Regions from separate parts of the Homo sapiens genome. Here all the other regions are linked to region 1. The links come from fine-mapping of genetic effects on gene expression. A gene starts in region 1. Each other region holds a variant in brackets. All regions are shown on one strand. Distances are between the middles of the regions. Region 1 holds the start of UBA7 (ubiquitin like modifier activating enzyme 7). Region 2 overlaps BSN (bassoon presynaptic cytomatrix protein). Region 3 overlaps IHO1 (interactor of HORMAD1 1). Region 4 has its middle 5.3 kb from the start of HYAL1. Region 5 overlaps BSN (bassoon presynaptic cytomatrix protein).

The links. PIP is the estimated chance that this variant, and not a neighbour inherited with it, causes the effect.
Region 2: its variant is fine-mapped to the expression of UBA7 in whole blood (INTERVAL, PIP 0.96).
Region 3: its variant is fine-mapped to the expression of UBA7 in whole blood (TOPMed, PIP above 0.99).
Region 4: its variant is fine-mapped to the expression of UBA7 in whole blood (INTERVAL, PIP above 0.99).
Region 5: its variant is fine-mapped to the expression of UBA7 in whole blood (INTERVAL, PIP above 0.99).

What each region holds. Positions count from the first base shown.
Region 1 is chr3:49,811,639-49,816,766 of GRCh38, forward strand. UBA7 (ubiquitin like modifier activating enzyme 7) reads right to left here and starts at 2,315. Exons shown (of 24, transcript NM_003335.3): 1 at 2,094-2,315; 2 at 1,841-2,009; 3 at 1,611-1,745; 4 at 1,424-1,530; 5 at 1,010-1,100; 6 at 770-905; 7 at 471-568; 8 at 232-378. The coding sequence starts at 2,149. RefSeq lists enhancers at 1-321, 2,049-2,438.
Region 2 is chr3:49,659,302-49,664,429 of GRCh38, forward strand. It overlaps BSN (bassoon presynaptic cytomatrix protein), which reads left to right. Exons shown (of 12, transcript NM_003458.4): 6 at 1,185-3,261; 7 at 3,575-4,365; 8 at 4,486-4,585; 9 at 5,122-5,128. Among named protein-coding and RNA genes, the nearest start is that of APEH, 12 kb to the right of the region's middle. The variant C/A (reference allele first, on the strand shown) is at 2,176.
Region 3 is chr3:49,221,161-49,226,160 of GRCh38, forward strand. All of the region lies in intron 2 of IHO1 (interactor of HORMAD1 1), which reads left to right. Among named protein-coding and RNA genes, the nearest start is that of IHO1, 24 kb to the left of the region's middle. The variant G/A (reference allele first, on the strand shown) is at 2,424.
Region 4 is chr3:50,306,352-50,311,479 of GRCh38, forward strand. It overlaps a transcript of HYAL1 not described here. Among named protein-coding and RNA genes, the nearest start is that of HYAL1, 5.3 kb to the left of the region's middle. The variant C/CA (reference allele first, on the strand shown) is at 3,110.
Region 5 is chr3:49,578,682-49,583,809 of GRCh38, forward strand. The region is part of intron 1 of BSN (bassoon presynaptic cytomatrix protein); the gene reads left to right. Among named protein-coding and RNA genes, the nearest start is that of BSN, 27 kb to the left of the region's middle. The variant G/C (reference allele first, on the strand shown) is at 2,581.

The sequences.
Region 1 (5,128 bases):
TCCAGGAGGCTTCACTAATCTGAGTGCAGCTTCCAGCACAGATCTGAGGGGTCGGGGTGTAGCAGGAGTCCCCAGGATGTGTGCCTGGCACTTCCATGGAACCAGTCTCTACTCTAAAGGCTGCAGTGTTGGGAGATCAGACTTGGATTTGTGAATGGTCATTGTTGCCTCTGGCAGGTGGGACCCCAATAAATGACAGAGGCTGGGGGTGGGAGCAACAGGACTACTCACAGGATCCCAGGGCTGGGGTGGCCGGCCATGGAGGTGCTGGAACTTGTGCAGTGCACAGAAGGCCTGATGCAGGCAGTGGGCATGGTGAACTTCCTGGGAGCTCTGGGCCACCACATGGGGCTGGAGCAGGGCTGTGTCCAGGGACTTCTGCAAGGGCACCTGGCTCAGGGTCTAGTCCAGAATGCTATGGGCCCCTCAAGGCGACCAAGCTCCCCTACCTCAGATGCACTTGCACTCACATGTCTCACAGTCTTGGGTCTCTTGACTTCAGTGATAGCCCCACCACGCAAGTACCGAGAGAAAGTTGTTGTGTCTCCAATCTCCAGGGACCCATCCTCTGAGGGAGTTCCAGTCTAGTCAGTAATGATCCTTGAGCCTGAGTAGTTCCCACACCCCATCCTATCTTGCATCTGTGTCCCAGACCTTGCTGCACCTTGTAGAAGGTGGAGGGAGAAAAACCCATCCCAAGGGCCAGGCTGTGCTCACTTCCAGTGGAGGCTTGGGCCCTGCACCTGGAATTGGAATGGGATTGGCTTACCCCGCACGTGGATAGACCGGGGATCACAGTCGTTGAGCTCAACCATTCCCTCAATTCCCGAGAAAGTCACCAAGTCTCCATCACGGAAGTAGTGGGTATTGGCCCCTTTCCTCAGAGTGAGAATGCCAGGGGAGCCCTGGGTAGGAGGAGGCTTGGCTCAGGGTTGCCTGGACCTGCCTTCCACAGGCCCTGGCAGCCTCTCCTTGGTCAGCAGGTGAATGCCTACAGCTCAGCACCCACCTGGGAGATGTGCTGGATGGCAGCTGTCAGGGGTTCTGCCTCTGTGGGGTCCTGCACAGTGAAGTCCTCACCAAAGTCACAGAACAACTGCCTGAGATGGGGTGGTAGGGGTCACTGAGGTGGCTTACAGATTGTACTTAAGGATAGGGGATACTAGGGCAGGGCCAGAGGGCCAGAATTGGGAAAGGAATGCAAGGAGAGGCTTGGGAACTAGAATTTGAGAGGGTTACTGGAGCAGGTCTGGAGGCTAGGTTGGAGGAACCAGAGGGCAGGACTGGGGACCAGAATCAGAAAGGCATGCTGGGATAGACCTGAGGCTGGTTGGAGGGGCACTGGAGCAAGCCTGGAGCTGAGGACAGCATGAGGCCAGTTGCTGGCTGTAATATGGTAGGCTGGGCAGGCAGTCTTACTCACCCCACGAGGCCCCGGGTGTCAGCCGCCAGAAAGCAAACTCCATGCTTATGACACAAGGTGCCCACCTTCAGCTGCTCCTCCAGCTTTGCAGCAGTCAGCACCACCACCTGGGTGGACACAGTGATCAGCAGGGCCAAAACCATTGCCCAGCCCTTCCTGCTCTTGAGGGCTGCAGGCCTGAGCTGACCTGGAAGTCCAACAGCAGGTCCTCAGTGATGTCACCCGTGTGCACGACGACCTGGACAGCTCTGTTGAGCTGAGCCAAGAGCTCTTGAGAGGCCTCGGCTCTGCTCCTTTCCAAGTCCTGCTCTGAGAGGAGAAACTAGGGAGAGAGCCAGTGCAGCCTGAGCAAAGACACTCCTCTTGGGCCGTGCCCCCACCTTGGTCTGGCAGCCCATAGCCCCCCAGGACACTTACCTGGGCAGCCAGGTCGGACCAGCAGGTGGGGTGGGGATCATGCAGAGTGAGGCTGCCCACACCCATCAGAACCAAGTTCTTGGCCACCTCGGCCCCCAGGCCCTGCAGGCCTGACACCAGGACCCTGGCTCCCTGAATCCTCTGCATGGCAGGTGAGCCCAGCACATACCTGTGGATGGGAAGCAGAAGGCAAGCAGTTGTAGATCAAGGTCTGAAGACCATCCCACTCTCCACCCCCCACCTCGGGCCTCACAGCTGTCTTGAATACAGCTCCTCATCCAGTAGCTTCGAAGCGTCCAGGGCATCCATCCTCAAACCTGGGGCTGAACAGTAGGCTGCAGCGCTCAGAGATAGGGTCTTTGTGTAGGTGGCGGTGACAGTAGGGGCCAGTGCCCTGCTGTAGCCAGTGCAAACAGGAACCAAGGCCAAGCGAATAAGGGACGCTGCTGGTCACAGCTCTCTTCCTGGAGAAAAGAAAAGTGAAAGTTAAACTATGCTCTGAGCTGGCTCCTGATCCTGCCTCCAGACGCCAGCCCCAGACAGGCCATTCAGGGTCTAAAACCTGGGATGAGTTCCAGGACTCTCAAGAGGTGATCAGTCTCTGAGTGTCAGACCTGAGGGTGGGAGGCATGGGGCAGCCACATTCACACATGTTCTTATTTTCCTTTTAGACTTTTATTTTGAAATAATTATAGACTCATAAGAAGTTGCAAAAAAAATAGTGCAGAGAGGTCCTGTGTCTCCTTTTGCCTTCTTAGGAACCTGGGGCCAGTTCTCTGGGAGATGGACCACTGTTTGTCACGAAACTACGTAATAGCCAAACCAAGTGCTGTCTTAAGTTCTTTTTTGTTGTTGTTGTTAATTTAGGTGAAATTCATGTAACATAAAGTTAACAATTTTAAAGTGTACAATTCAGTGGCATTTAGTGCATCCACAGTGTTGTTCAACCATCACGTCTATCTAGTTCCAAAATATTTCATCACCCACAACGAACATACCAAACACATTCAATAATTACCATACATGTGGCCGGGCATGGTGGCTCACACCTGTAATCCTAGCACTTTGGGAGGCCAAGGCGGGTGGACCACCTGAGGTCTGGAGTTCAAGACCAGCCTGACCAACATGGTGAAACCCCATCTCTACTAAAAGTACAAAAATTAGCCAGGCATGGTGGTGCATGCCTACATGTAATCCCAGCTACTCGGGAGGCTGAGGCAGAAGAATTGCTTGAATTCGGGAGATGGAGGTTGCAGTGAGCTGAGATCGAGCCACTGCGCTCCAGCCTGGGCAACAGAGTGAGACTCAGTCTCAAAAAAAAAAAAAAAAAAAAAAAGAATTGCAAAATGTGACCTCTTATGTCTATTTCCTTTCACTTAGAATGTTTTCAATGTTCATAGAGTTTATAGCCTGTATCAATATTTCATTCCTTTTAATGGCTGAATAATAGTCCATTATATGTATATACCACAATTCGTTTATCCATTCATCTGTTGATGGACATCTGGGTTATTTCTAACTTTTGGATTTGTGAATAGTGCTGCTATGTCCTTTTTTTTTTTTTTTTCTTTTTGAGACAGTCTCACTCGGTTGCCCAGGCTGGACTGCAGTGGCACAATCACAGCTCACTGCAGCCTCGATCTCCTGGGGTCAAGTGATCCGGCTGCCTCAACCTCCCAAGTAGCTGGGACTAGAGGTGTGCACCACCATACCCTGTTAAAGTGGTTTTTGTTTGTTTGTTTGTTTTTGAGACAGGGTCTCACTCTGGTTGCCTAGGCTGGAGTGCAGTGGTGTGATCATGGCTCACTGCAGCCTCAGTGTCTTGGGCTCAAGCAATCCTCCCACCACAGCCTCCTGAGTAGCTGGGACCACAGGCATGCACCACCACATCTGGCTAATTTTTCTTTTTTTTTTTTTTTTGAGACGGAGGCTTGCTCTGTCACCCAGGCTGGAATGCAATGGCACAATCTTGGTTCACTGCAACCTCCGCCTCCTGGATTCAAATGATTCTTCCGACCCAGCCTCCTGAGTAGCTGGGATTACAGACACTGCCATCATGCCCGGCTAACTTTTGTATTTTTGTAGAGATGGGGTTTCACCATGTTGGCCAGGCTGGTCTTGAACTCCTGACATCAGGTGATCCCCCCGCCTTGGCCTCCCAGAGTGCAATTTTTCTTTTTTTACTTTTAGTAGAGACGGGGTTTTGATATGTTGCCTAGGCTGGTCTCGAATCTCTGGACTCAAGCAATCTGCCCACCTCAGCCTCCCAAAGTGCTGGGACTACAGGCGTGAGCCACCGCACCTGGCTTTGGCTAATTTCCTAATTAATTACTTGCTTTTGTAGAGATTGGGGGTGGGTATTGCTATCTTGCCCAGGCTGGTCTCGAATGCCTGGCCTCAAGTGATCCTCCCACCTTGCCCTCCCAAAGTGCTGGGATTACAGGTGTGAGCCACCATGCCCAGCCTGATTCTTGAACAAGTACTATGTTGCCCAGGCTGGTCTCAAAATCCTGGGGTCAAGTGCCTCGGCCTCCTAAAGTGCTGGGATTACAGGTGTAAGCCACAGCGCCTGGGCTTTCAGCTTTTTTGGGCATATACACAGGAGTAGAGTTGCTGGGTCATATGGTAATTCTGTGTTTGTTTATTATTTATTTATTTATTTTGAGACAGGATATCACTCTGTCACCCAGGCTGGAGTGCAGTGGCGCAATCTGGGCTCACTGCAGCCTCAAACTCCCTTCCAGGCTCAAGTGATCTTTCTGTCTTAGCCTCCCAGGTAGCTGGGACTACAGGCATGCGCCACCATGCCTAGCTAATTTTTTGTAGAGATGAGGTCTCACCATATTGCCTAGGCTGGTCTCAAACTCCTGGGATCAAACAGTTCTCCCACCTCAGCCTCCCAAAGTGCTAGGATTACAGGCATGAGCCACCGCGCCTGGGTTTATGTTGAACTTTTTGAGGAACCACCAAACCGTTTTCCCTATTTTATATTCCTACCAGCAATATACAAAAATTTCTATATATCCACACTGTTGCCAATACTGGTTATTTTTCTTTCCTTTTTTTAAAAAAATGACACCAATCCTAGTGAACGTGAAGAGGTATGTCTTTATGGTCTTTTGTTTGTTTTCATTCAATAACATTTACTGGTGTGACAGAAGTACTAGGTACAGAAACCAGGGCTGGATTTTGAAGTAAAATGCTATCTTTAATAGACTCCAAAGAGTATTTAAGGAAATTCAATATCCATTCCTGCTTTTTAAAACTCTCATTAAAATAGAAATAGAT
Region 2 (5,128 bases), 150 kb before region 1:
AGGTCCCATGGGCTGGCCATGTGAGACCAGGCCATGATAGGCACTCATGATGCGTGGCCAAAATAAGAAAAGAGACAACAGAGTGAGGGGTTCAAAAGGCTAAATTTATTCCATAAAAGGCCCACCCTGAAATTTTGAGGGCACACTATAATTTTTATTATGACATATGGTGGATGTAGGTGGGAGGTTTTTAGGTAGTTACTTGGCAAGGTAAAAAGTAAGAATCCTATAGGAGTCACTTCCCAGTATATATTGGAATTTGGGTGGTCCATGAAACCCAAGGGCATGGGGCATTCTGGGAAGGCTAGGAGCGAGAGAAAAAGGGAGAAGACAGAGTGAACTACCAGGCAATGTGGACCTTCAGGCAATGCAGAGTGTCTAGGGTAGGCAAGGAGGACCCCATGGTAGGCACTGTTAGGGAACCTTGACCAGGAAGCCATGCTGCTGGAGGTAGGGCTGGATAGGACTTACGGGTGCACTGGTGGCTCCAGAGAACAGCAGGTTGACCGAGGGACATGGAGGGAGCTGGGGACCAGGCCAAGAGCACAGCCCAGAGGGTTTGGCAGAGGGCAGTGCAGGGCACTAGAGGAAGAGGGTGGGCAGGCAGCTGAGGAGCCTTCCACTTTAGAGAGGACTAGGGCAGGATGCAGAATGACTCAGAGCCTGCCACGATTGGCATACAATCTACATGTGTCCCTTCCCATGATCCTCTAGGGAGCCTGGCGGGCCCAGGACCCTCTCCACTCCATGCCTCCTGTTCATACTCCACTGATCTCAACCCCTGTCAGCTGCTAGGCCCCAAACCCAGAGCCACAGCTGTACTCTTCTTACCTCAATGTGAGGCAGAGGGTGGCAGGCCCATTGGAGATGTGCAGGGGTTCTCAAAGCCATGTGCTGGGCCAGTACAGGACATTGGCATGAAGGGAATCTGCCCGTACCCTCCTGCTTCCCAAAGCTCTGGGAAAGAGAAGGGCTGTAAAATAATCACAGATCTTCCCTCTATGGCAAAGAAACCAAGGCCTATGGGTGGGCAGGGTAGGCCTCCAGGCTGCCTGGTAAATCAGGGCACCAGCAAGATGGAACCCAGCTCCTTCCCCAGCCCAGGCCTGGGTTCTGCCACCCCACACCCCATCAAGTCACCACACCTTGGGTCTCAGTGCTGCCCACCCTTCCCTCTGTCTCAGGTGTCGGCGTTGCCACCCAACAGCCTGGTCCGCAAGGTGAAGCGGACACTGCCCAGCCCCCCTCCAGAGGAGGCTCACCTTCCCCTGGCTGGCCAGGCCTCCCCACAGCTGTATGCAGCCAGCCTGCTGCAGCGAGGGCTGACGGGGCCCACCACTGTCCCTGCTACCAAGGCCAGCCTGCTCCGGGAGCTGGACCGGGACCTGCGGCTGGTGGAGCATGAGTCCACCAAACTGCGCAAGAAGCAGGCAGAGCTGGATGAGGAGGAGAAGGAGATTGACGCCAAGCTCAAGTACCTGGAGTTGGGTATCACACAACGCAAAGAGTCTTTGGCCAAAGACCGGGGTGGCCGTGACTACCCACCCTTGCGTGGTCTTGGCGAGCATCGTGACTACCTATCGGACAGTGAGCTCAACCAGCTGCGGCTCCAGGGCTGCACCACTCCCGCTGGCCAGTTTGTGGACTTCCCTGCCACTGCCGCTGCTCCTGCCACCCCCTCTGGTCCCACTGCCTTCCAGCAGCCCCGCTTCCAGCCTCCAGCCCCACAGTATTCTGCAGGCAGTGGTGGGCCAACTCAGAACGGATTCCCAGCCCACCAGGCCCCCACCTACCCTGGCCCCAGCACGTACCCAGCTCCTGCCTTTCCTCCTGGTGCCAGTTACCCAGCTGAGCCTGGCCTGCCAAACCAGCAGGCTTTCCGCCCCACAGGCCACTATGCAGGCCAAACACCCATGCCAACCACACAGAGCACCCTTTTTCCAGTCCCCGCTGATAGCCGTGCCCCACTGCAGAAGCCACGCCAGACATCGCTAGCCGACTTGGAGCAGAAGGTGCCCACCAACTATGAGGTGATCGCCAGCCCCGTTGTGCCCATGTCTTCAGCCCCATCTGAAACCAGCTACAGTGGCCCAGCAGTGAGCAGCGGCTATGAGCAGGGCAAGGTCCCTGAGGTGCCCCGGGCTGGTGACCGTGGCAGTGTGAGCCAGAGCCCAG[C/A]CCCCACCTACCCCTCTGACTCACACTATACCAGTCTGGAGCAGAACGTTCCTCGAAACTACGTAATGATTGATGACATCAGTGAACTGACCAAGGACAGCACCTCTACTGCTCCTGATAGCCAACGGCTGGAGCCCCTGGGGCCAGGCAGCAGTGGGCGTCCAGGGAAGGAGCCTGGAGAACCAGGTGTCCTTGACGGGCCCACACTGCCCTGCTGCTATGCCAGAGGAGAAGAGGAATCTGAGGAGGACTCATACGATCCCCGCGGGAAGGGTGGCCACCTCCGGAGCATGGAGAGCAATGGTCGACCAGCCAGTACCCACTACTATGGTGACAGTGACTACAGGCATGGGGCTCGAGTAGAGAAGTATGGTCCAGGGCCCATGGGGCCCAAGCATCCCTCCAAGAGCCTGGCTCCAGCTGCCATCTCCTCAAAGCGCAGCAAGCACCGGAAGCAGGGCATGGAGCAAAAGATATCCAAGTTCTCGCCTATTGAAGAGGCCAAAGACGTAGAGTCAGACCTGGCGTCCTACCCCCCACCTGCAGTCAGCAGCAGCCTGGTCTCTCGGGGCAGGAAGTTCCAGGATGAAATCACCTATGGGCTCAAGAAGAACGTGTATGAGCAGCAAAAATACTATGGGATGTCCAGCCGGGACGCAGTGGAGGACGACCGCATTTATGGCGGGAGCAGCCGGTCCCGGGCACCTTCTGCATACAGTGGGGAGAAGCTGTCCAGCCACGACTTCAGTGGCTGGGGCAAGGGGTACGAAAGGGAACGGGAGGCTGTGGAGCGACTTCAAAAAGCGGGCCCCAAGCCCTCATCCCTAAGTATGGCCCACAGCCGGGTACGACCCCCCATGCGGAGCCAGGCCTCTGAAGAGGAGAGCCCCGTCAGTCCTTTGGGGAGGCCCCGCCCTGCCGGAGGGCCCCTCCCTCCCGGCGGGGATACCTGCCCACAGTTCTGCTCCAGCCACTCCATGCCTGATGTCCAGGAACATGTCAAGGACGGACCTCGGGCCCACGCATATAAGCGTGAGGAGGGCTACATCCTGGATGATTCCCATTGCGTGGTTTCCGACAGCGAAGGTAATGGCAGCCAGGGGTGATTTCTGCGGATACTCAGCAGCTGGGGGGCCTGCCTACCTGTGGGGCCCTGGGCCCTAAGATGTCCCAGCAGGGTCTGGTCTGGCGCCTCATCTGGTGGGCCCTGCTGCAGGCAGGCTGCCCTTGCCTGCTCCATCTGTGCCCTGGTCCGTGGTTGCGGGAGGGTGGGCTGGGGGCCTGCTGATCTGCTTGTGGCTGTGGCACCCACTCTCTTGGTTTCTTTGCATGGCTTCAGCTAGGCCTCCCCCTGCGGCTAGCCCGGGGGTTGATGGTATTCTGTTTTTGGTCTCTGAAGCGTATCACCTGGGCCAGGAGGAGACGGACTGGTTTGATAAGCCCCGGGATGCCCGCTCTGACCGGTTCAGGCACCACGGGGGCCATGCAGTTTCCTCCTCCTCCCAGAAGCGAGGCCCTGCCAGGCACAGCTACCATGACTACGATGAACCCCCTGAGGAGGGCCTGTGGCCTCATGATGAGGGTGGCCCAGGCCGCCATGCCTCAGCCAAGGAACACCGGCACGGTGACCACGGGCGGCACTCAGGCCGCCACACTGGTGAGGAGCCGGGACGGCGTGCTGCCAAACCACACGCTCGGGACCTGGGTCGCCATGAGGCCCGGCCCCACTCTCAGCCCAGCTCTGCTCCAGCTATGCCGAAGAAGGGTCAGCCTGGGTATCCCAGCTCTGCTGAGTACTCACAGCCATCCCGTGCTTCATCCGCATACCATCATGCCTCTGACAGCAAGAAGGGCTCCCGGCAAGCCCACTCCGGGCCCGCTGCACTGCAGTCAAAGGCAGAACCCCAGGCGCAGCCGCAGCTGCAAGGTCGGCAGGCAGCTCCAGGACCACAGCAGTCACAGTCACCATCATCCAGGCAAATACCCTCTGGGGCAGCATCACGCCAGCCACAGACACAGCAGCAGCAGCAAGGTCTTGGGCTGCAGCCCCCACAGCAGGCTCTGACACAGGCTCGGCTGCAGCAACAGAGCCAGCCAACCACCCGGGGCTCAGCCCCTGCTGCCAGCCAGCCTGCAGGGAAGCCTCAGCCAGGCCCCAGCACAGCCACAGGTCCTCAACCAGCAGGACCGGTAAGCAGAGCTCCCATGCATGGGTTGTAACCAGGGAAGATGCTATGAATGAAGCTTGGACATCCCCTTGGTTCCAGGCTGGGCATGGGCAGAATCTTAGCTATAGGTTCTGTGTTGCAGCCACGGGCAGAACAGACAAATGGCTCTAAAGGGACAGCCAAAGCACCGCAACAGGGGAGGGCTCCTCAGGCCCAGCCAGCACCAGGACCTGGACCTGCAGGTGAGCCTATCCTTTGACACCCTTGGCTGTGGCCCAGAGCACCCAGGCTGTTCTCTCTCTATACCACCTGTGCCCTGAGCTCCCCCACACTGCATGCCCTCACTAATCCCTGAGAAGGTGCCCCAGGGGCTGTAGACCTCCCCAGCAGAAAACAAGCCTGGGGTTAGAATAAGCCAATGAGGTCACCAGCACAGGGGCTTTAGGGCCCAAGCAGCTTTGGGCAGAGAAGCAGGAAGGCACTGGTGAGCACAGGGTGGGGACCATGGCTTCTTGCTCCCTCCTTCCTTCCCCTTTCCTGCTCTTCTCTGCCTTTTTTTCCCTTTCTTCTTCTTTCCCTTCCTCAACCTCCTTTTTTCTGCCTTCTCCCACCCCTTGTCTTCCTGTTCTTACCTTCTTCTCTTTATTTCCCTAGCCTCCTTCTCACCTTCCCACCTTATAGGGTACCTGTGTTCAGATTCTCTCGTGGGTACTTGCCCTCTTAGACCCTAAAGAGCCAGGCCGTGCATAGCTCATTATGGCGATTTCTTTCCTCCTAGGTGTGAA
Region 3 (5,000 bases), 590 kb before region 1:
TTGGTGCATTTTTACAGAGTGCTGATTGGTGCATTTACAATCCTTTAGCTAGACACAGAGCGCTGATTGGTGTATTTTTACAGAGTGCTGATTGGTGCGTTTACAATCCTTTAGCTAGACACAGAGCACTGATTGGTGCATTTTTACAGAGTGCTGATTAGTGCGTTTACAATCCTTTAGCTATACACATAGTGCTGATTGGTGCGTTTTTTACAGAGTGCTGATGGTGCATTTACAATCCTTTAGCTAGACACAGAGCGCTGATTGGTGCAGTTACAATCCTCTAGCTAGGCAGAAAAGTTCTCCAAGTCCCCACTCGACCCAGGAAGTCCAGCTGGATTCACCTCTCAATCCCCCCTCTAAACAGGACACCCCAACTGCTGTTGGGAATTGGGTGATGACCGCTATAGCTACTTCCTGCTGGTTAGGGGCGAAGAAGGGGCCCTGCTGTGGTAGTGTCCTCCAGAGGGGAACTCTCTAGGCCAGCCAAAGGGCCAGTGGGTCAATCCAGGGGTCCTTGGTAGAAGTTGTTAGTTGAGCTCATTTGGGGTTCCATTTGTAAGACCATCTATAGACTGATGGCCTCGATACTAGAGGAAACAAATTTGACAAGGATGTTAAAACACAGGGCCCGAAGGCGAGTAATAGCAAGATGGCTGTCAGGAGGCCTAGAAAGGGGAGAAGCCTTGTCGCCCAACTCCAGAGGCTGGTATAAGAGTTTGAAAGGCACTGTCTGATTTCAGAAGCCTTTTCCTATAAACGCCGGGTGGCATCTTGTACTATCGCTGACTGGTTAGTGTAAAAACAGCACTCTTACCCTAAGAAGGTGCAGAGTCCTCCTTTCTCAGCAGTGAGGAGGTCTAGGTCTCAGCAGTTTTGGAGAGTTAGTGATGCCAAAGAGTCTATTTGGGATTGTAGAGTAAGGATAGATTTCGTCATTTCTTGCAAACTGTCTGAGAAATCCTTTGAGAGTCTGTGGTAGTAGCATAATGAAGTAGATAAACTGGCTATTCTGGTTTCTGTAGCCATAGCTGTTCCTAACCCTATAAGTAGGGGTATTAGTTGTATGGCTCTGCGCTGACGGATAGAGAGCTACAAAGCCAACAGTCATTTGCCAGGGAAGGATTGGACTGGTTTAACAGAGAGTGGGTTAAGTTGAGAGTCTTGTACAGGTAATTAGGAGCTAGGGGAAGGGGAGGGGCAATTGTATGAGGTGTCCAAGGAAGCAGGAGGGATAGATAGGCAAAGAGTAAATAGGAAGGTAAGGAGGGTGCTCTGGAACACGAGATCATTTTATCCAGTCTGAGTTAAAGGTGGGAGTAAATTGCTGTCAGAAGGAAGGAAGATAGAAAAAAGGTTGATGTGATTAGGATTTGCATCCCAGCAGGAGCTATAGTATGTAGTCCTATCGTAAAGAGTATGGTTAGTATGCTGCTTAATAATATTATGAAATAGTAAAAGGATTCCATTAAAGGGGCAAGGAGAGGTATTAAAGATTATGTAGGTTTTCACTTATCTTTTTTAAGGAGGAAAGGGTTTTTCCTCAGGATCAGTGGTAGGAGCCTTTTTAGTCTGGGATATTTCCTTTCAAAATAGGAGATGCAAGTCCTCCAATGGTTCGCAAGTTTATTGAGGCTGGTCTGGGTGATCTTGGGACTCCTGAACTGACGGTCCTGCAGGTTCCGCAGGGGGTGTCCAAAATTTAACTCAATTGTAGTGAATCCAAGATTCCACTCCTGCCACCTTAACTGCAGTGGGGTTAGAAAGGATTACCGAGTATGGTCCTTCCTACAAATAATCCATAGATGGAGAGGTAGATGGGAGAGATTTGACCAACACTAGATCTCCTGGTTGAAACAACTCTGTTCCCTTTTCTCTGTGACATCCTTCAGGTAGGTTTTTAAGGTTTCATTGATATTTTGCCAAAGAAGTTATGTATTTGACCAAGTTGGCCGTTTCCTGATCAAGTAGGAGGTCATTTGTGATAAAAGGTTGTCCATACAGCATTTCATATGGACTGAGCCCCATATTGTGAGGAGAATTTCAGATTCTTAACAAGGCCATGGGCAAAAGACTAGGCCATGGGAGATGAGTTTCTTGTGTTAGTTTCCTTAAGTGCTTTTTGAGTGTTTCATTTGCTTTCTCGACCTTCCCTGAGGATTGTGGCCTCCAGGCACAGTGAAGGTGATATTGTATCCCTAGTGCCCTCGAAATTCCCTGAGTTATCATGGCTTTAAAAGCCTGACCATTGGCCAGGTGTGTGGCTTATGCCTGTAATCCCAGCACTTTGGGAGACCGAGGCGGGCGGATCACGAGGTCAGGAGATTGAGACCATCCTGGCTAACACGGTGAAACCCCGTCTCTACTAAAAATAAAAAAAATTAGCTGGGTGTGGTCGTGGGCACCTATAGTCCCAGCTACTC[G/A]GGAGGCTGAGGCAGGAGAATGGCGCGAACCCGGGAGGCAGAGCTTGCAGTGAGCCGAGATCACGCCACTGCACTCCAGCCTGGGAGAGAGAGTGAGACTCCGTCTCAAAAAAAAAAAAGCCGGACCATTGTTGGTCTGTAAGCTTTGGGGAAGCCCAAATCTAGAAATTATTTCATGTATTAGGACTTTAATTGCTTCCTGAGCCTTCTCTGTCTTGCAGGGAAAAGCATCTATCCAATTTGTAAAGGTATCAACACAGACCAACAAGTATTGAAATCCGTTTGACTTAGGGATATGGGTGAAGTCTAACTGCCAGTCCTCTCCAGGATAGTGACCTATTCTTTGTTCCCCCAAAGGGACCTTACGATGGACCAAAGGATTCTTCCTTTGGCACACCTCACAGGCTTTGACTACCTGTTGGATGGCCCGGAAGAGATTTGGCCCTGTAGATAGGGATTTGGCCATTTGATGAGTGTTTTCAATACCCATATGAAAAGTTTGGTGGAGCGTTTTAAGTATTTTCTGGTGTCTGGCTTTAGGCATAAGTACCTTTCCTTCTTCTGTTGTTAACCACCCCGAGGGGAGAAAACTATGCCCCCATGAAAGTCCCCATTCTGTTTCAGTCGGGGAATACTGGGGCTTAATCTCGTGGAGGGAGTTGTTCCATACCAAGGATCCTTCCGTAGGTATTTCTAATGGGAGGTTCCACCTGGCAGCAATTTTGGCCTCAGCATCTGCCTGACGGTTTCCTTCTGCCTTTTCTCCCTCACCTTTCTGATGGCTTTGGCAGTGTAAGACTGCCACCTCCTTGGGTTTTTGCACTGTGTGCAATAACTCCATAATTTCCTTGTGGTATTTAATGGGGGTTCTTCCCAGAGGTTAGGAACTCCCTTTCTTTCTATATTGCAGCATGGGCATGTAGGATTAGATAACCATACTTGCTATCTGTATACACATTTATTCTTTTTCTTTTTCCCAGTTCTAAGGCTCTGGTAAGTGCCACTAGTTCTGCTAACTGGGCGCTGGTCCCTGGGGGAAGAGGCTTACTTTCAAGTATGGTTACATCACTAACTATGGCATAACCTGCCCTTCGTATCCCATTCTCCACAAATGAACTTCCATCGGTATATAGGTTAAGGTCAGGATTAGCTAAGGGGACTTCTAAGATATCATCTTGAGCGGCATAAGTCTGGACTATAATTTGTTGGCAGTCACACTTGATTGGTTCCCCATCCTCTGGGAGAAAAGTGGCAGGGTTGAGGGCTACGCATGTATGTATTTGAAGGGCCATTCCCTCAAGGAGTAGCACCTGGTATCTAAGTAGGCAGTTGTCTGATAGCGATAAACTTCCTTTGACACCTAGTATGCCATTTACATGAGTAGTCCAGACAGTGAGATTCTTTCCTTGTATTATTTTGATAGCCTCTGTCACTAAGACGGCCACTGCCGCAACTACCCGTAAACAGTGAGGCCAGCCTTTTGCTACTACATCAGTTTCTTTATTTAGGTATGCCACTGGTTATGGGGTTGTCCTGCGGGTCTGAGTAAGGACTCCAAGAGCTATCCCTGCTCTCTCTGTGATGTATAAAGAGAAGTTTTGGCTGGGCGCAGTGGCTCACGCCTGTAATCCCAGCACTTTGGGAGGCTGAGGCGGGCAGATCATCAGGTCAGGAGTTCAAGACCAGCCTGACCAACATGGTGAAACCCCGTCTCTACTAAAAATAAAAAATTAGCTGGGCATGGTGGTGGGTGCCTGTAATCCCAGCCACTCAGGAGGCTGAGGCAGGAGAATCACTTGAACCCAGGAGGCAGAGGTTGCAGTGAGCAGAGATTGCGCCATCGCATCCCAGCCTGGGTGACAGAGTGAGACTCCGTCTCAAAAAAAAAAAAAGAAAAGTTTTGTCCTGTGGGAAGGCTTAAGGCTGGAGCTTGAGTTTGTTCCTTCCAATGCCCAAACTTCAGGGTTGATTCCCTCCACCGGTAGGGGACAACAAATGGGTAACTTATTCCCCCATATTCATGTAGATAATAGCTCCAGCTTTGGCTAATATATCCCTCCCTAATAAGGGTGTGGGACTTTCAGGCACAACAAGAAAGACATGTGAAAAGAGCAAAGTCTCCCAATTACAACTGAGAAGGTGGGAGAAATACCTGGTTACAGGCTGTCCCAGTACTCCTTGGATGGTAACAGACCTTGAGGACAGTCGCCCGGGACAGGAGATTAACACTGAGAAGGCCGTGCCGGTGTTCAGGAGGAAGTCAATTTCCTGGCCCTCGATGGTTATACATACCCAGGGCTCAGTGAGGGTGATGACATGAGCTGGCGCTTGCCCCGGGCACCCTCAGTCCTGTTGTTGGATCATCTGGTTGGGGGCTTGTGGCCCAGAGGACCTTTGTCCTCTGGGGTAGTGCACCTTCCAGTGATTGCCTTGGCATAATGGACATAAGTGAAGGGGCAGCTCGTTTCTCATTGGACACTCTTTTAAAGTGTCCTTGCAAACCACACTGGTAACAAGCCCTACCAGGTAATTGGCATGCTCCATTTTCTGTCCTCTCTGAACCACCAAGGTTGGTTT
Region 4 (5,128 bases), 490 kb after region 1:
TTTTTTTTTCCTGCTTCTGGGATGGTAGAGAGCAGTCTACAGCCTGAGACCCATCACTAGGTAAGAAACTGGCTTGGGATTCTGCCTTGCAATTTCCTTTAAATGACTAAAGTTAGCATTTAACAACCAGCTGGTGTTAACTTCTGCTTACACTTACAGCACTCAGAAATCATATACTTTGTGTGATCATTGTTACTTTAGCAGCATTTTGTTCTAGCTGAAATATGGTAATAAGATTAAAAAAATTTTTTTTGGCTGGGAGTGGTGGCTCACACCCGTAATCCCAACACTTTGGGAGGCCGAGGTGGGCGGGTCACCTGAGGTCGGGAGTTTGAGACCAGCTTGGCCAACATGGTGAAACCTATCTCTACTAAAAATACAAAAATTAGCCCGGCATGGTGGTGGGTGCCTGTAATCCCAGCTACTCAGGAGGCTGAGGCAGGAGAATTGCTTCAACCTGGGAGGTGGGGGTTGCAGTGAGCCGAGATCATGCTACTGTTACTCCAGCCTCAGTGACAGAGCAAGACTCCATCTCAACAACAACAACAACAACAACAAAAACACAAAAATTATCCAGGCATGGTGGCCCACACCTATAATCCCAGCTATTCAGGAGGCTGAGGCAGGAGAATCACTTAAACTTGGAAGGCGGAGGTTGCAGTGAGCTGAGATTGCGCCACTGCCCTCTAGCCTGGGTGACAGAGCAAGACTCTGCTAAAAAAAAAAAAAAATAAGCCGGGTGCAGTGGCTCACACATAATCCTAGCACTTTGGGAGACTGAGGCAGGAGGATCATTTGAGGTCAGGAGTTTGAAACCAACCTGGCCAACATGGCGAAACCCTGTTTCTACTAAAAATACAAAAATTAGCCAGGCTTAGTGGTGTGTGCCTATAATCCCAGCTACTTGGGAGGCTGAGGCAGGAGAATCGCTTGACCTGGGAGGCAGAGGTTGCAATGAGCTGAGATCATGCCACTGCACTCCAGCCTGGGTGACAGCAAGACTCAGTCTCAAGAAAAAAATAAAAAATAAAAAATAAACCAAAATAGGGCCGGACGCAGTGGCTCACGCTTGTAATCCCAGCACTTTGGGAGGCCGAGGCGGGCGGATCACAAGGTCAGGAGATCAAGACCATCCTGGCTAACATGGTGATACCCTGTCTCTACTAAAAATACAAAAAATTAAGCTGGGCGTGGTGGTGGGCGCCTGTAGTCCCAGCTACTCGGGAGGCTGAGGCAGGAGAATGGCGTGAACCCGGGAGGCGGAGCTTGCAGTGAGCGGAGATCATGCCACTGCACTCCAGCCTGGGTGACAGAGCAAGACTCCATCTGAAAAAAAAAAAAAAAAAAAAAAAACCCAAAATAAATAAAAAGGAGGGATGTTCAGAACAAATTGGAAAGTCCAACCATGTCATGAACAGTCAGTGTAAGTCACAAAAAACCCAAAAACTTTTTTTTTTTTTTTGAGACGGAGTCTCGCTCTATCACCCAGGCTGGAGTGCAGTGGCGCAATCTCGGCTCACTGCAAGCTTGCCTCCCGGGTTCACGCCATTCTCCTGCCTCAGCCTTCTGAGTAGCTGGGACTACAGGGGCCCGCCATCATGCCTGGCTAATTTTTTTGTGTTTTTAGTAGAGACAGGGTTTCACCATGTTAGCCAGGATGGTCTTGATCTCCTGACCTCGTGATCCACCTGCCTCGGCCTCCAGAAGTGCTGAGATTACAGGTGTGAGCCACCGTGCCCGGCCAAAAACCCAAAAACTTTTATATAATCAAGTTGTCGTATACTTTTTTCTTCAGGGTAGAGTCTTGCTTTGTTGCCCAGGCTGAAGTGCAGTGGTGCAATCTTGGCTCACTGCAACCTCTGCCTCCTGGGTTCAAGTGATTCTCCTGCCTCAGCCTCCCCAGTAGCTGGGTTTACAGGCATGTGCCACCACACCTGGCTAATTTTTGTATTTTTGGTAGACATGGGGTTTCAGCATATTGGCTTGGCTGGTCTCAAACTCCTCGCCTCAGGTGATCCGCCTGCCTTGGCCTCCCAAAATGCTAGGATTACAGGCGTGAGCCACCATGTCAGGCCACGTTGTCGTATTATATATTATTATTATTATTATTTTTTGAGATGGATTCTCGCTCTGTCACCCAGGCTGGAGTGCAGTGGCGCGATCTCAGCTCACTGCAAGCTCCACCTCCCAGGTTCATGCCATTCTCCTGCCTCAGCCTCCTGAGTAGCTGGGGCTACAGGCGCCCACCACCGCGCCCGGCTAATTTTTTGTATTTTTGGTAGAGACAGGGTTTCACCGTGGTCTCGATCTCCTGACCTCGTGATCTGCCCACCTTGGCCTCCCAAAGTGCTGGGATTACAGGCATGAGCCACCGTGCCTGGCCTTTTTTTTTTTTTTTAGACGAAGTCTCACTCTGTCACCCAGGCTGGAGTGCAATGGCAGGATCTCGGCTCACTGCAACCTCTGGCTCCTGGGTTCAAGCGATTCTCCTCCCCTAGCCTCCCGAGTAGCTGGGATTACAGGTGCACACCACTACACCTGGCTAATTTTTGTATTTTTAGTAGAGACAGAGTTTCAGCATGTTGGTCAGGATGGTCTTGAACTCCTGACCTCGTGATCTGCCTGCCTCGGCCTCCCAAAATGCTGGGATTACAGGCGTGAGCCACCGTGCCTGGCCAACAGCTTTTAACAATTTAGTACAGTCCTATGAACAAAATTTGGAGCATATTTGTTTCTCTACCTGATTTCTCCAGAATTTGGAAACTATTTGTGAGTATTCTTAACTTATGGCAATACAGTTATTTGCATAAGTGCCATAAGAATCTGTTTTTGCCTGGCATGGTGGCTCACTCCTGTAATCCCAGCACTTTGGGAGGCCAAGGTGGGCAAATCACCTGAGGTTGTGAGTTCGAGACCAGCCTGGCCAACATGGCAAAACCCCATCTCTACTAAAAACACAAAAATTAGCTGGGCATGGTGGCACATGCCTGTAATCCCAGCTACTCCAGAGGCTAAGGCAGTAGAATCGCTTGAACCTGGGAAGCAGAGGTGGCAGTGAGCTGAGATTGCACCATTGCACTCCAGCCTGGGCAACAGAGCCAGACTCCAC[C/CA]AAAAAAAAAAAAAAAAAAAAGAATCTGTTTTCATTTGTAACAGGACACAATTGGAGGAATTGATTATTTGACCAAGACTTTGACAGGAATGGTGTGCTTTCGTTTAAGGAATCAAACTTAACTTATGGAGCCAATAAAGCCCTTGGGAAAACTGGCCTCACATTTTGTGTACACAGTCCCTGTACAGGATTTCTTACCTGTGGTAAGTAAAGAATGTCACTTTCTGGGGCCAGGAGTGGTGGCTCATGCCTGTAATCCCAGCACTTTGGGAGGCCAACGCGGGAGGATCACCTGAGGTCAGGAATTCAAGACTAGCCTGATCAAAAAAAAAAGGATGTCACTTTCTGACAGGCACAGAGGCCCCAGGTTTATGTTTATCTTGGAACTTGAAAGGAGAGGAAATTCCATCCAACTCATGGGTATTTGATGGCACAAATCCATGGCTGGGCAGGGCTTTAAAAAGTCTTACCTGAGATTCCTCTTATGGGACAAAATAAATTATTCTTGCTGCACTGTATACAAATATTTAGGCCAAGTATAATAAGCAAACAAGTCATACCATGATTTGTCTTTAGTAAAATGGGAAATTGGAGAGAGAATAAAATCATGTTTCAAAACGAATGTTCACCTGTTGTTAGATTCTAGTCTTAACTGTTTTTTTGTTTGTTTGCTTCCAATTTTTATGATTTTCTACAGTTTGGAATGAATTTTTCTTGGCTACAAGTCTTCAAATTAAGTTTTCAATTTTTTTCCTTCTTTTTTTTCATTTTCCTAATTTGGAGTCACTGAAAACTAAGCTGTGTGTTTTTTTTTTTTTTTTTGAGACAGAGTCCCGCTCTGTCACTCAGGCTGGAGTGCAGTGGCAGGGTCTCAGCTCACTGAACCTCCGCCTCTCAGGTTCACGCCATTCTCCTGCCTCAGCCTCCTGAGTAGCTGGGACTACAGGCAACCACCACCACGCCCGGCTATTTTTTTTTTGTATTTTTAATAGAGATGGGGTTTCACCGTGTTAGCCAGAATGGTCTCGATCTCCTGACCTCGTGATCTGCCCGCCTCGGCCTCCCAAAGTGCTGGGATTACAGGAGTGAGCCACTGCAATCGGCCACTGTGGTTTCTTTTCTTTTTTTTTTCTTTTTTTTTTTTAATTATTATTTTTTTATTGATCATTCTTGGGTGTTTCTCGCAGAGGGGGATTTGGCAGGGTCACAGGACAATAGTGGAGGGAAGGTCAGCAGATAAACAAGTGAACAAAGGTCTCTGGTTTTCCTAGGCAGAGGACCCCACGGCCTTCCGCAGTGTTTGTGTCCCTGGGTACTTGAGATTAGGGAGTGGTGATGACTCTTAACGAGCATGCTGCCTTCAAGCGTCTGTTTAACAAAGCACATCTTGCACCGCCCTTAATCCATTTAACCCTGAGTGGACACAGCACATGTTTCAGAGAGCACAGGGTTGGGGGTAAGGTCACAGATCAACAGGATCCCAAGGCAGAAGAATTTTTCTTAGTATAGAACAAAATGAAAAGTCTCCCACGTCTACATCTTTCTACACAGACATGGCAACCATCCGATTTCTCAATCTTTTCCCCACCTTTCCCACCTTTCTAGTCCACAAAACCGCCATTGTCATCATGGCCCGTTCTCAATGAGCTGTTGGGTACACCTCCCAGACGGGGTGGTGGCCGGGCAGAGGGGCTCCTCACTTCCCAGTAGGGGCAGCCGGGCAGAGGCGCCCCTCACCTCCCGGACGGGGTGGCTGGCCGGGCGGGGGGCTGACCCCCCCAACTCCCTCCCGGCCGGGGCGGGGGGCTGACCCCCCAACCTCCTTCCCGGACGGGGCGGCTGGCCGGGCGGGGGGCTGACCCCCCCACCTCCCTCCCGGACGGGGCGGCTGGCCGGGCAGAGGGGCTCCTCACTTCCCAGTAGGGGCGGCCGGGCAGAGGCGCCCCTCACCTCCCGGATGGGGCGGCTGGCCAGGCGGGGGGCTGACCCCCCCCCACCTCCCTCCCGGACGGGGCGGCT
Region 5 (5,128 bases), 230 kb before region 1:
AGGTGTGAACCACCGCACCTGGCCCAAAGCTACAATTTGAGAACATTTTCATCACCCACAAGAAGAAACCCCATACCCAAAATGTCACTTTCCATTCTTCCCCCCTCTATCTATCCTCCAGGCCTAAGGTAACCACTAATCTACTATCCACCTCTCTAGATTTGCCTATTCTGGACATTTCATATAAATGGAATCATGCAATGTGTGTTTTGGGGGTTTGGCTTCTTTCACTTAGTGTGTTTTCCAAGGCTCATCCAGGATGTAAGATGTAGTGTGTATCAGCACTTCATTCCTTTATTCATTTATTTGTTTAGAGAGGGAATCTTACTCTGTCACCCAGAGGACATGGAGGCTGGAGTACAGTGGTATGATCATGGCTTACTGTAACCTCAAACTCCTGGGCTCAAGAGATCCTCCCACCTCAGCCTCCCAAGCAGCTAGGACTACAGGCATGCACCACCATGCCTGGCTAATTTTTTTTTTTTTTTTAAGTGACAGAATCTTCCTATGTTGCCCAGGCTGGTCTCAAATTCATGGCTTCAAGTGATCCTCCTGTCTCAGGCACCCAAAGTGCTGGGATTACAGGCATGAGCCACTGCACTCAGCCAGTTACTTCTTTCCTTCTTATTGCCCAGTGATATTTCATTGTATGGATGTACCACATTTTATCCATTTATCAATAAGTATGATTTTAGGTATGGGTTTTTCATAGATGCGCTTTACAATTTTTTTTTTTTTTGAGACGGAGTCTCGCACTGTTGCCCAGGCTGGAGTGCAGTGGCAGGATCTCTGCTCACTGCAGCCTCCGACTCCAGGGTTCAAGCAATTCTCCTGCCTCAGCCTCCTAAGTAGCTAAGATTACAGGCGCCCGTCACCACGCCCAGCTGATTTTTTCTTTCTTTCTTTTTTTTTTGTATTTTTAGTAGAGACAGGGTTTCACCATGTTGGTCAGGCTGGTCTCGAACTCCTGACCTCATGATCCACCAGCCTCGGCCTCCCAAGGTGCTGGGATTACAGGTGTGAGCCACCGCACCTGGCTAGATGCGCTTTAAAAAATTGAAATTCCTTTCTATTTCTAGTCTGTTAAATTTTTTTAAGCATAAAAAGGTATTGAATTGGAAAAGGTATGAAATGCTTTCTGCATCTATCAAGATGATCATGTAGTTTTTGTAATCTTGATAGATGGTTTTTGTCCATCATTCTATTAATATGCTATATTAATTGATTTTTTAGATGTTAAGCCATAATTGCATGTCTGAGAAAAATTCATTTGGTTATTATATTAAATCCTTTCTATATGTCACCGGATTTGTTTTGCTAGTAGTTGTTTATAATTTTTGCATCTATAGTAACAAGATATATTGGTCTAAAGTTTTCTTGTGATGTTTATGTCTGTTTTTTTACAAATTTAATTTGATTATTTTATTTTGTTTATTTCATTTTATTTAGATACAGGGTCTCATTATGTTCCTGAGGCTAGATTCAAACTCCTGGGCTCAAGTGATCCTCCCACCTTATTCCCCTGAGTAGCTGGGACTACAGGCATGTGCCACCACATCCAATTTATGTGTGGTTTTGATATCAGGGTAATTGTGGCCTCATGGAATGAGTTGAGAAGTGTTTTATCCTGTTCTATTTTTTGGAAGAGTTTGTGAAAGATTAATATGAAATCTTAAGACAGTTTTATTGAGATATAATTAATATGCCAGAAAATTTACCCATTTAAAGAGTATAATTCAGTGGTTTATTACGTATTACATTATAAATTTTTTTAGGATCTTGCTCTGTCACCGAGGCTGGAGTGCAGTGGTGCGATCATGACGCACTGCAGCCTCAGCCTCCTGGGCTCAAGCAGTCCTCTCATCTCAGCCTCCCGGGCTCAAGCAGTCCTCTCATCTCAGCCTCCCAAAGGGACTACAGTCATGCACCACCATGTCTGGCTAATTTTTTAATATTTTGTAGATATCAGGTTTTACTATATAGTCTAGACTGGTCTCGAGCTACTGTACTCAAGCAATCCTCCTGCCTCTGCCTCCCAAAGTGCTGGGATTTACAGGCATGAGCCACTGTGCCTGGTCACATTATTAATCTTTTAAAAATGGTGATAAAATATAAATATCATAAATTTGCCATTTTAACCATTTTAAGTGTACAATTTAGTGGCATTAATTACTGTATATTCATGATTCATGTTGTGCAACCATCACCACTATCTATTTCTAAAATTTTTAATCACCCCAAACTCTGACCATTAACCAGCACCTCCCCATTGACCCCTTTCTTCAGCGCCTGTTAACTTTTTTTTTTTTTTCTTTTTGAGACAGGGTTTTGCTCTCATCACTCAGGCTGGAGTGCAGTGGTGTAATCTTGGCTCACTGCAACCTCTGCCTCCCGGGCTCAAGTGATTCTCATGCTTCAGCCTCCCAGGTAGCTGGGCCTACAGAAGTGTGCCACCATGCCAGGCTAATTTTTGTATTTTTAGTAGTAAAGACTGGGTTTCGCCATGTTGGCCAGGCTGGTCTTGAACTCCTGACCTCAAGTGATCTGCCCACCTCAGCCTCCTAAAGTGCTGGAATTACA[G/C]GCATGAGCCACTGCGCCTGGCCTATCCATTTATTGATGGGCACTTGGGTTGTTTCTACTTTTTGACTCCAGTAGTCCCCCCTTATCTGCGGTCTTGCTTTCTGTGGTTTTAGTTACCCACGGTATGGTACAATCATATTTTGAGAGAACACATTCATATAGCTTTTATTACAGTATATTGTTATAACTGTTCTATTTTATTATTAGTTATTGTGAATCTCTTATTGTGCCTAATTTATATATTAAACTTCATCATAGGTTTGTATATGTAGGAAAAAACAAGGCTGGGCATGGTGGCTTACGCCTGTAATCCCAGCACTTGGGGAAGCCGAGGTGGGCGGATCACAAAGTCAGGAGATCGAGACCATCCTGGCCAACATGGTGAAACCCTGTCTCTACTAAAAATACAAAAATTAGCTGGGCATGGTGGCACGCGCCTGTAGTCCCAGCTACTTGGGAGGCTGAGGCAGGAGAATTGCTTGAACCCAGGAGGCAGAGGTTGCAGTGAGCCGAAATCGCGCCACTGCACTCTAGCCTGAAGAGAGAGCAAGACTCTGTCTCAAAAAAAAACCCAAAAAACAAAACAAAAAAAAACAAACTTTGTGTATATAGGCATCTACTGGGGGTCTTGGAACATATCCCCTGAGGATAAGTGGGGGCTACTATATTGTGAATAATGGTGTAATAAACATTGGCATTCAAGTATCTGTTCAAGTCCCTGGTTTTACTTCCTCTGGATATAAACCTAAGAGTGGAATTCCTGGATCATATGGTAATTTTATGTTAGGCTTTTCGAGGCGCTGCCAAAAATTTTTCTGTAGCAGCTGTACCGTTTTACATTTCCACCATCATTGTATGAGGGTTCCAATTTTTCCACGTCCTTGTCAACACTTGTTATTTTCTGTTTATTTTGTTTGTTTTTAGTAATAGCCTAAAGAGTGTGAAGTGGTATCTTATTGTAGTTTTGATTTGCATTTTTCTAATCAATGGCTTATTGGCCATTTGTAAATCTTTAGAGAAATGTCTGTTCAAGTCCTTTGCCTATTTTTGTTTTCAAGACAGGGTCTTGCTGTGTTGCCCAGGCTGGAGTTCAGTGGCTATTTACATTTGCAGTCATAACACACTACAGGCTCAAATTTCTGGGCTCAAGCAACCCTCTTGCTTCAGCCTACTGAGGAACTGGAACTACAGGCCCAGCTGAAATGAACTGCCTTTTGTGTGTTGATTTTATATCCTTCAGTTTTGCTGAAGTTGTTTATTAGTTCTAACTTTTTTGTGGCCTGTTTAGGGTTATCTACATGTAAGATCATGTGGTCTGCAGGTAGAGATAATTTTACTTCTTCTTTTCCAATTTGGATGTCCTTTATTTATTTTTTTTCTTGCCCAATAGCTCTGACTAGGACTTCCAGTACTATGTTAGATAGAAATGGTAAAACTTCCTTGCACATCGTTGTCTTGTTTCTGATTGTAAAGGGAAAGCTTCTAATTTTTCACTATTGAGTATTATGTTAGCTGTGAACTTTTCATAAATAGTCCTTATCATATTGAGAAAGTTCCCTTCTATTTCTAGCTTAAGTCTTTTGAATCATGAAAGTGTATTGACTTTTGTCAAATGCTTTTTCTGCATCAATTGAGGTAAACATATAGTTTCTTCCCTTCATTCCCTTCATTCTATTAATATGGTGTATTACATTTATTTATTTATTTATTTATTTATTTATTTATGAGACAGGGTCTTGCTCTGTTCCCAAGGCTGGAGTGCAGTGGTGCAATCTTGGCCCACTGCAGCCTCTGCCTCCCAGGTTCAAGAGATTCTCCTGCTTCAGCCTCCAGAGTAGCTGGGATTACAGGTGCGTGCAACTACTCCTGGCTAATTTTTGTATTTTTAGTAGAGATGGGGTTTCACTATATTGGCCAGGCTGGTCTCAAACTCCTGGCCTCAAGTGATTTGCCCACCTCGGCCTCCCAAAGTGCTGGGATTACAGGTGTGAGCCACTGTGTCTGGAACATTGATTGATTTTTGGATGTTCAGTCAACCTTGCATTCCAGAAATAAAGCCCAATAGAAGGATGTACAATACTTCTAATATGCTGCTGAATTCAGTGTGCTAGTATTTTCTTAAGGATGTTTGCATCTCTTTTCATAAGGAAAATTGATCTGTAGTTTTCTTGTAGTATCTTTGTTGATATTAATTTATTTTTGGCTGGGCACAGTGGCTCATGCCTCTAATCCCAGCACTGTGGGAGGCTGAGGTGGGAGGATCACTTGAACTCAGGAGTTCGAGGCTGCAGTGAGCTATGATTGTGTCACTGCATTCCAGCCTGGATGACAGAGCAAGACCCTGTCTGTTATAAAATAAAATTTTTAAAAAATAAATTCTTTTTCAATGGTTAGTAGGATTCACCAGTGAAGACAACTGAGCATAAGCTTTTCTTTGTGGGAAGTTTTAAAATTACTTATTCAGTTTATTTATGTGTTATAGGTCTATTCCGATTTTTCATTTCTTCCTGAGTCAGTTTTGATAGTTTGCATCTTGGAATTTGTCAAT